2 linked regions of the Homo sapiens genome follow. The protein of the gene in region 1 interacts with the protein of each later gene in a biochemical or structural test. Each region holds a gene or a part of one and is shown on either strand. Other genes may lie near its edges.

Region 1 (3,828 bases):
GCTTGAAGCCGTGGTTTTTAGTTTCTGTTTCTAGTGATAAGCAGAAAAGAGCGATGGGGAAGGGACTTTACTGGCCCAATCAGAAACAGAAACTAAGAACCCATGACTGTATTCTCTTCCTTGGACATCCCCGAGTGTCCCAGGACTTAGTCCTGTAACCTTTTCTCTTTTATCCACTTTCATTCCCTAAATATTTTTATCTGTGCTTTAAATGCCTTCTATATGGAGATGACGTCCACGTTTTTATTTCAAGGCCTGATATCTCCCCTGAACTGCAGACCCCTATATCTGACATCTCCAACATGTCTGATGAGATTAGACAAATTTATCATGTCTGAAACAAAACAGTTTTCCTCTGGCCAACTCACTCCAGCTCCAGTCTATCATATCTCAGGATAGGACACTATTATTCAAAGAATCGCCTTTTATTTCTCTTTTCCTTTCATCTATACTTCCAATCCATCAGCAACTCAAGTTGGTCCTGTCTTAAAATCCTAAACCTGAACTGTTCTTAAGCCACCATTGCCAATATTCTGGTCAAATTTATATCTTTTCCAGACTGAAAGTCTCCTAGCTGGCTTTTCTTCTTCCACTCTTGTCCCGCTACAGTCTGTTTTCCACGTAATAATTTGTACGATATTTTTCAAACAAAGCATGGTCATACTCCTGCTGAAAACTCTCCAATGTCTTCCCATCAAACTGCAAACCTTTAGGGCCCTTTATGCTCTGGCCTCCATCTACTTCTCTGATCTCCTCCCCTACCAGTCTCCTCCTTGGTAATTTTGCTCCAATCTTAATGGATTTCTTACCAGTTCTCCATCAAACCAAGTCTGCACCCCCCTTTTGGAGTTTTTTCCTTGTGTTTCCAGCTACCTTGAGAATTTCTTTCCCCATGTTTTTAGATAGCTCCCTTCTTGTCTCTTTTCAAGTCTCTTAATTACCACCTTCTCTAAGTGGTCTTCTCTAGTCACTTTACCCATGAGTGGATTTGCTGGATAGCCATCCTAGCTCTTTGGAAAAATGAAGTCATTTTTAAGCATTAATTTAAAATATGTAGGAGTGTAAGTTGGAAAAGTAACATTGATAAAGGTAGATGTAACATGTTCACATTTCTTAGTGTATTTTGTTGGTAGAAGCTCAAAACATTGAAAGTGCAATTAGTACTATGTGTATTTGACACACACACACACATACACATACACACATATATATATTTCAAAACAATGAATTATATCTTTTTGGATGTGAACAGTCTTCTTAATAAACAGTCCAATTAAAATAAGCCAGATGTGTTTGTAATTGACTTTGAATGTTGCACTTTAGACCAATGTAAATTCACCATCATATTGCATTTTAATGACTGGCAAATAAAAAGCTAAGGTCAAGAGATGTTTTATTTTTCTTTTACTTTTGCAATGGCATGAAACACTCATGAAAGGGTAAATCTAATACATGAAATTATTAAGAAGACATGCTATTTCCCCCCACAAGCTTAATAAAATTAAAAATTTTAGTAAGTAGTATGCTTCTAAAAGGCTTTCAGCAGTTATACCAGCAAACTGAAGCCTAGTTGTCTATTTCAGAAACTTCAGAATTTCCAGATTTTTCAGATATGTGTAAGAGCTGAATAGAAATTAAAGCAACAGAAAATGGAAGAGAAAACAAATCGGTTAGAGCTACTCTATTATGAAGAGATTTTTAACCCCATATCAAAAAAATATTTGCCACCACTACTCTGGACATAATATTTTTCATTACTATGTCACAGAATACAAATCTTTGATTCACTTTGAAATGAAAGCCACAAATACAGAACTAAGTCCCATACCTTAAGGAGCAAAAAAGGTGAATATTTTGCCAAAATTCTTCTCGCCTCAATAAAGGATAAGAAGGTCATGCCTAATAAAACAGTAACTGTTGAAATTCAGGAATTTGCCAAGAACATCAGTTTGATGTATTTGTTTCAAAGAGAGGAATTCAACATCCTTATAAGAGAAAGGTTGTATGTGTTCCATCCCACAGCCATGATCTATGTACTATGCCCAAGAAGGACCCACAAAAGTGGAAGCTCAGCTTTGTGATGGCCCAATCTCTGTTTTCCTCCTCATACAGTATCGGTTCGCCTTGTTGCTTCTTAAAGTATTGTGCTCCTGTTTATTTAAAGGATTCTTACTTTCAGAGTGCTCTGGGGAGGGAGTGGTAAAGATGTGAAGTGAGCCTTGGCAGCTGCCTAAAACCAAAACCTTCATGCCTACCATCTTATAGTCAGTAATTCCTTGGTGACATCTAACACAAGCAAGAGAAGCGTGTGGTGTGTTTAAACAGAAATCTATCAAACTTTTTTTGTCCTTATATATATATCCTCTTAAAAAATTACAGAAATACTCCTTTTGAATGCACAAATTCAGATTATTGTTACTTAGCAACAGAGGTTGAATGCTTGTTACACATTGTGAAATTGTACTATATTCCCTCAAAAGGAGAAAAGTTTCTCATTTATCTAGCTTCTAAAAATTCTAAGATATTAAGTCATATTTGTTTTTAATGTATCTCCTGATTGTTCTGGGCGATTTGTGAAGGATTTTGAATTGTTAAAGCTAGCACATATGTTATATGTACACAAGTTATGAAGCATAATAGTAAAACAAACACCCATGAAGCCACCTCCAAACTGAATTACGTATCTCATCCTGCCAGATTCATCCTCCAAATACAACTATCCTCAGTTCAGTTTTTATTGCATTGTTTACTTACCTTAAAAAGAAATGGGTTTTTGCCTACTTATATGTCTCAAAATAATATACCGCTGAGTTCTGCTTATATTTTGTGCCTATGATAAAAGAGTTATGAGACTATCTGTAGTCTGGTCACTTCCTTCTTAAACTCAGTTTTCTTACAAATGCCCACTAATTTATATTCTTCTGAAATATTTTATATTGGCAATATATGTTATATTAAGGTTTATTATAAAGCTGTAGTAATTAAAATAGCATTACATTTGTGTAGAGATAGGTGAATTGTTCAAGGGAACAGGATGGAGAGCCTAAAGACAGGTTCCTGCATATATGGAAAGCTGATTTATAATTGGAGGTAGCATTGCCAACTACATATTCTTTGGCTCATACAATTTCCACAAGCTATACTAGCACGTGTATACAGAGGTCTGTGTTGAAGGATGTTCATTACAGCCTTAATTATAATAGCCAAATATTATGAACAATCTTAATGTCTGTGAATATAATGCTTTAGAATATTAAAATATCTGTTACATATATTATAACTATAAAATGAAAACTATGCAACGGTTTAAAAGGAAAAAAAAACAAGAGACACTGATCCTCTATAACACTGCAGTTGGGACTGATAACTTAGTATACTCTCTGGGAAGAAATTTGGCAATATGTATCACAATTTACAATATGCAGATGTGACAGATTTCAGTACCTTGAACATCTTTTGAAGGGTGTGCACTCAGGTTGTAAATTTTATTGCTTGAAAAACAACAAAAAAGTTAGAATAAACTTACATGTCTGTCAATGGGAAAGTAGCTAAATAAATTATGAAATACAGTTAAGCAATTTTTTAAAATGAGATAGGGAAAACTTCCAGTAATGGCAATGAAATAAAGTGATTGTGTGGACCCTCTCAAACTTAAGAATTATAAGGATTATAAGATGTGGACCACATATTTTTAAAAACCCATCTTTAAATGCTTAAAAACATCCAAAAGTAGACAGAAATCACTGGAGAATGGACTGGAACTGAGTATTGGTATATTCTTCTGTACTGTTTAATTTAGACCAAGTGCAAAATAGTTTTAGAAGCTGA
Region 2 (3,828 bases), on another chromosome or scaffold:
TTTTTATTGAGCATTTTGTATATGCAGGCACTGTACTAGGCAAAGTACTTCTGAAGAAATGTTGGCTCTTCATTAAAGTTGGTATATTTTAATTATGGTATTTAAGAACTGGTCTGGCTGAAGCTGATTTCCAAGCTACTAGAATGTAAGTGATCTTCACTTATCTGGGAAATTGTCCCTCTGGACTGAACTAAAGCTCACTCTGATAGTTTCTTTCCATCACTGAAAGTACAAATATAGTCTGGAAATAACTTTACTGAGAATTTTATTTTCTTCTGTTGGCCATTGACATCACATTCATTCATTCACTCACTTAGCAAATATTTATTAAGTGCATACTGTGTGCCAGGCAGTGTTCCAGGCTCTGAGGATACAGCAGTGAACAAAGTCATGGCCCTCTGGGATCACTTATTCTGAAGGATGGGGGTAGGAATATATATAATATGTATAGATAATATAATATATAATATGTATAGATAGTGTAATATGTAATATGTGAGATGGTGATAAGTACTAACAAGAAAGTAAAGTAGAGAAGAAATCTAAGAAATGCTGGGCATTTGGGGGTGAGGGGTTGTATTTTCTTTTTAAAGGATGGCCAGGGAAGACCTCACTGAGAAGGTGGCATTCATATAAAGACCCAAAGGAAGTCAGGAATAGGAGGAAGAGAGAAGTACAGCCTATTTATCTTCTTTCTTTAATACAGTAAGTTAGCTACTTGTGTTGCCCAAGCTACCAAAATTGGATTAATTTCTAAAGAACCCTCAACAGATAATTAAATATCAACCATTTTATGAGGCATGTAAGTGTAGGTGGCAGGGGCTAGGAGAGGGGGGAGACAGGAAAATATAGTAGTGGTGTCCTGCTATTTAAAAAACAAACCCTTTTCAGAGAGTCCCTTATTCTCATTATCCTTAAGAGAGGAGGTTGGATTGTTTTCCCTACCAGCCTGCCTCCTGCTGTATCTTACAATGAAATCTTCAGCCACAACTGCGTTTGCTGTCTCTTCCTATGAAATAACTCTCAGAATGCTTAATTTGACTTCCTATAGGTTGAGTAGAAATGGGCTGAGAGGCAGGGAGCCTTAACATAATATGGGGAGACAAAGAGGACTATAAAACAAGAAGGTAAATGGTGTGAGCTCAAGTGTCTTGGGTATTGCTAGGTTCTTTCCAGTTTGAACATCCCTTATTACTGGTTTCCTGAAGTCTTCTTATGTCCCTGCTCTGCCTGTAGTTTGCTGAGAATGAGGCTTCTGCATTGTTGGATCCCAATTTTACCTAAGCATGGAGCTTTGACTTTTCTAACTAATTCTTTAATTTTTTGATACTTGGCCATTAGACTCTGACATATTACCTTATAGAATGAATTCAGCAAATAAATTATAATTCATGATATTAATTTTCATTCTCCACCCTCAGCATCTGTGAGCGGGTAACTCCCCGGCTATCCCATGCCAACTCAGCAGTGGTGCTTTCAGCGGTAAAAGTCCTAATGAAGTTTCTAGAATTGTTACCTAAGGATTCTGACTACTACAATATGCTGCTGAAGAAGTTAGCCCCTCCACTTGTCACTTTGCTGTCTGGGGAGCCAGAAGTGCAGTATGTCGCCCTGAGGAACATCAACTTAATTGTCCAGAAAAGGTTGGGAAATAGCGAAGTGTTGATTAAAGTGTTTGTAATTTTGCATTAAGCTTAATAATGTCAATGTTAATTAGGCTAGTGTTAATCTCTTTTTAATATATGGAAATGAAAATGTTATATGGCAGAAAAACTTGCTTGCCTAGCACCAGGAGGCTAACAGTTGATATTACAGTGTTTCTATAATAAATGCCATGCGTTGCTCCACAATCCAGTTTGTTTTCTGAAGGGTCTCTTTCTGATATACTGTCTAGTGCCTGGTTGATATGGTTCAGGCTGTAGTTTAGAGCCAGATTGTTGTTCTAGCAGTTCTTCATGGCAACATGTGCCCTGATGCTTAAAAAGGATAAAAATAATCTGCCAAGTGGAACTGATAAGAATAGAGGCGTATAGAGGAAGTTTATGCTTTTTTTTTTTTTTTTTTTTTTTTGCCTGAGTGGAGCGAGAGGAGAGCAGAGAGGCACAGATTAGGTATTAATACAGTCTCAGAAGGGTATATCAGTATATGCCTTCACCTTCCTTTCTTCTGTTTCTGTGTACCCTAGGCCTGAAATCTTGAAGCAGGAAATCAAAGTCTTCTTTGTGAAGTACAATGATCCCATCTATGTTAAACTAGAGAAGTTGGACATCATGATTCGTTTGGCATCTCAAGCCAACATTGCTCAGGTCAGACTTTATGCAGACTCAAGTTGATGATGATTTAGCTCTTAAGGTCTGGCCTTTAAAGAAGCTAGGCTGTGAGATTGCTATTTGAGAATCCTTAATGATTAACCACTTCCTGGGTTTAACAGGTTCTGGCAGAACTGAAAGAATATGCTACAGAGGTGGATGTTGACTTTGTTCGAAAAGCTGTGCGGGCCATTGGACGGTGTGCCATCAAGGTGGAGGCAAGTGTCTGATGGTAGTTAGGATCATGTATTGGGGATTCTGAGAGTTCTCTTCACTTTTTTCTTTAAAATAATTTTTAAGTTTATCAAAATAATAAAGCACACAGTTTCAATGTTAAAGAATTTTTAATGGAAAGCAGCTGTCTCTGGTTCCTCCCTTCCCTACCTAGACTTTCTTCTCAGAGGGAATATTTTTAACTCTGATTTTGCTTTTAGTTATTCTTTTGATTAAAATAGGTCCTCCATATCCATGAGTTCCACATCCGTGGATTCAGCTAACTGCGGATCAAAAATATTCAGGGGAAAAGAAAAAGGATGGTTTTGTCTGTACTGAACATGTACAGACCTTTTTTTGTCTATATTCCTTAAAAATATAACAATTATTTACATAGTATTTACATTGCATTAGGTATTATAAATAATCTAGAGATGGTTTAAAGTATACAAGAGAATGTGTATAAATGCAAATACTATACCATTTTATGTAAGGCACTTAAGCATCCATGGATTTTGGTATCCACAGGGGCCCAGGAACCAATCTCCCATGGATTTGGAGACATGACTGGGCTGCCATATCTCTAAATAATATTCTTGGCTGGGTGCAGTGGCTCACACCTGTAATCCCAGCACTTTGGGAGGCCAAGGTGAGAGGACTGCTTGAGCCCAGCAGTTTGAGACCACCCTAGGCAACATAGTAAGGCTCTGTTTCTACAAAAACTTTTTTAAGTTAGCTGGGTGTGGTGGCACACACCTGTAGTCCCAGCTACTTGGAAGGCTGAGGCAGGAAGATTGCTTGAGTCTGGGAGGCTGAGACTGTAGTAAGCTGTTATTGTGCCACTGCACTCCAACCTGAAACCTTTTCACTCTGGGTGACAGAGCAAGACGCTGTCTCAAAAAAAGAACAACAATAATATTCTTATGCTATTATTTATTAATTTACCTATCATAGACTTTTTCTGTTAACTATCTGCTATAAGAAGTTTACTTCATACACCCACCATTCCCACTTCCGTCTCCTGTTTTCCAGTGTAGTTACATAATGAAGGTTTTTGTTCCTATATCCATTATCATGGTAGATTGAAATAATATGCCTTTGTTTCTTATTCTATCAACTGTTGGCTTGCAAAATTTATGCATATTACGACTGTGTAAATATTTAGGGCCAATGTAATGCAAATGATTACATTTTCTTTCTTATAGCATCTTTTTTTTTTCTGGAGGTTTTTTGTTTTGTTTTGATTTTTGAGACAGAGTCTCTGTTGCCCAGGCTGGAGTGCAGTGGTATGATCTCGGCTCACTGC

What was found.
Region 2: the proteins of CCDC91 (region 1) and AP2B1 interact in a surface display test, tested with the Homo sapiens proteins (one large-scale study listed by IntAct).

What each region holds. Positions count from the first base shown.
Region 1 is NC_000012.12:28,543,432-28,547,259, forward strand, and holds part of CCDC91 (coiled-coil domain-containing protein 91), read left to right. Parts: intron 1-3,828. UniProt on the Homo sapiens protein: Involved in the regulation of membrane traffic through the trans-Golgi network (TGN). Functions in close cooperation with the GGAs in the sorting of hydrolases to lysosomes.
Region 2 is NC_000017.11:35,625,200-35,629,027, forward strand, and holds part of AP2B1 (AP-2 complex subunit beta), read left to right. Parts: intron 1-1,421; coding exon 1,422-1,643; intron 1,644-2,185; coding exon 2,186-2,306; intron 2,307-2,431; coding exon 2,432-2,527; intron 2,528-3,828. UniProt on the Homo sapiens protein: Component of the adaptor protein complex 2 (AP-2). Adaptor protein complexes function in protein transport via transport vesicles in different membrane traffic pathways.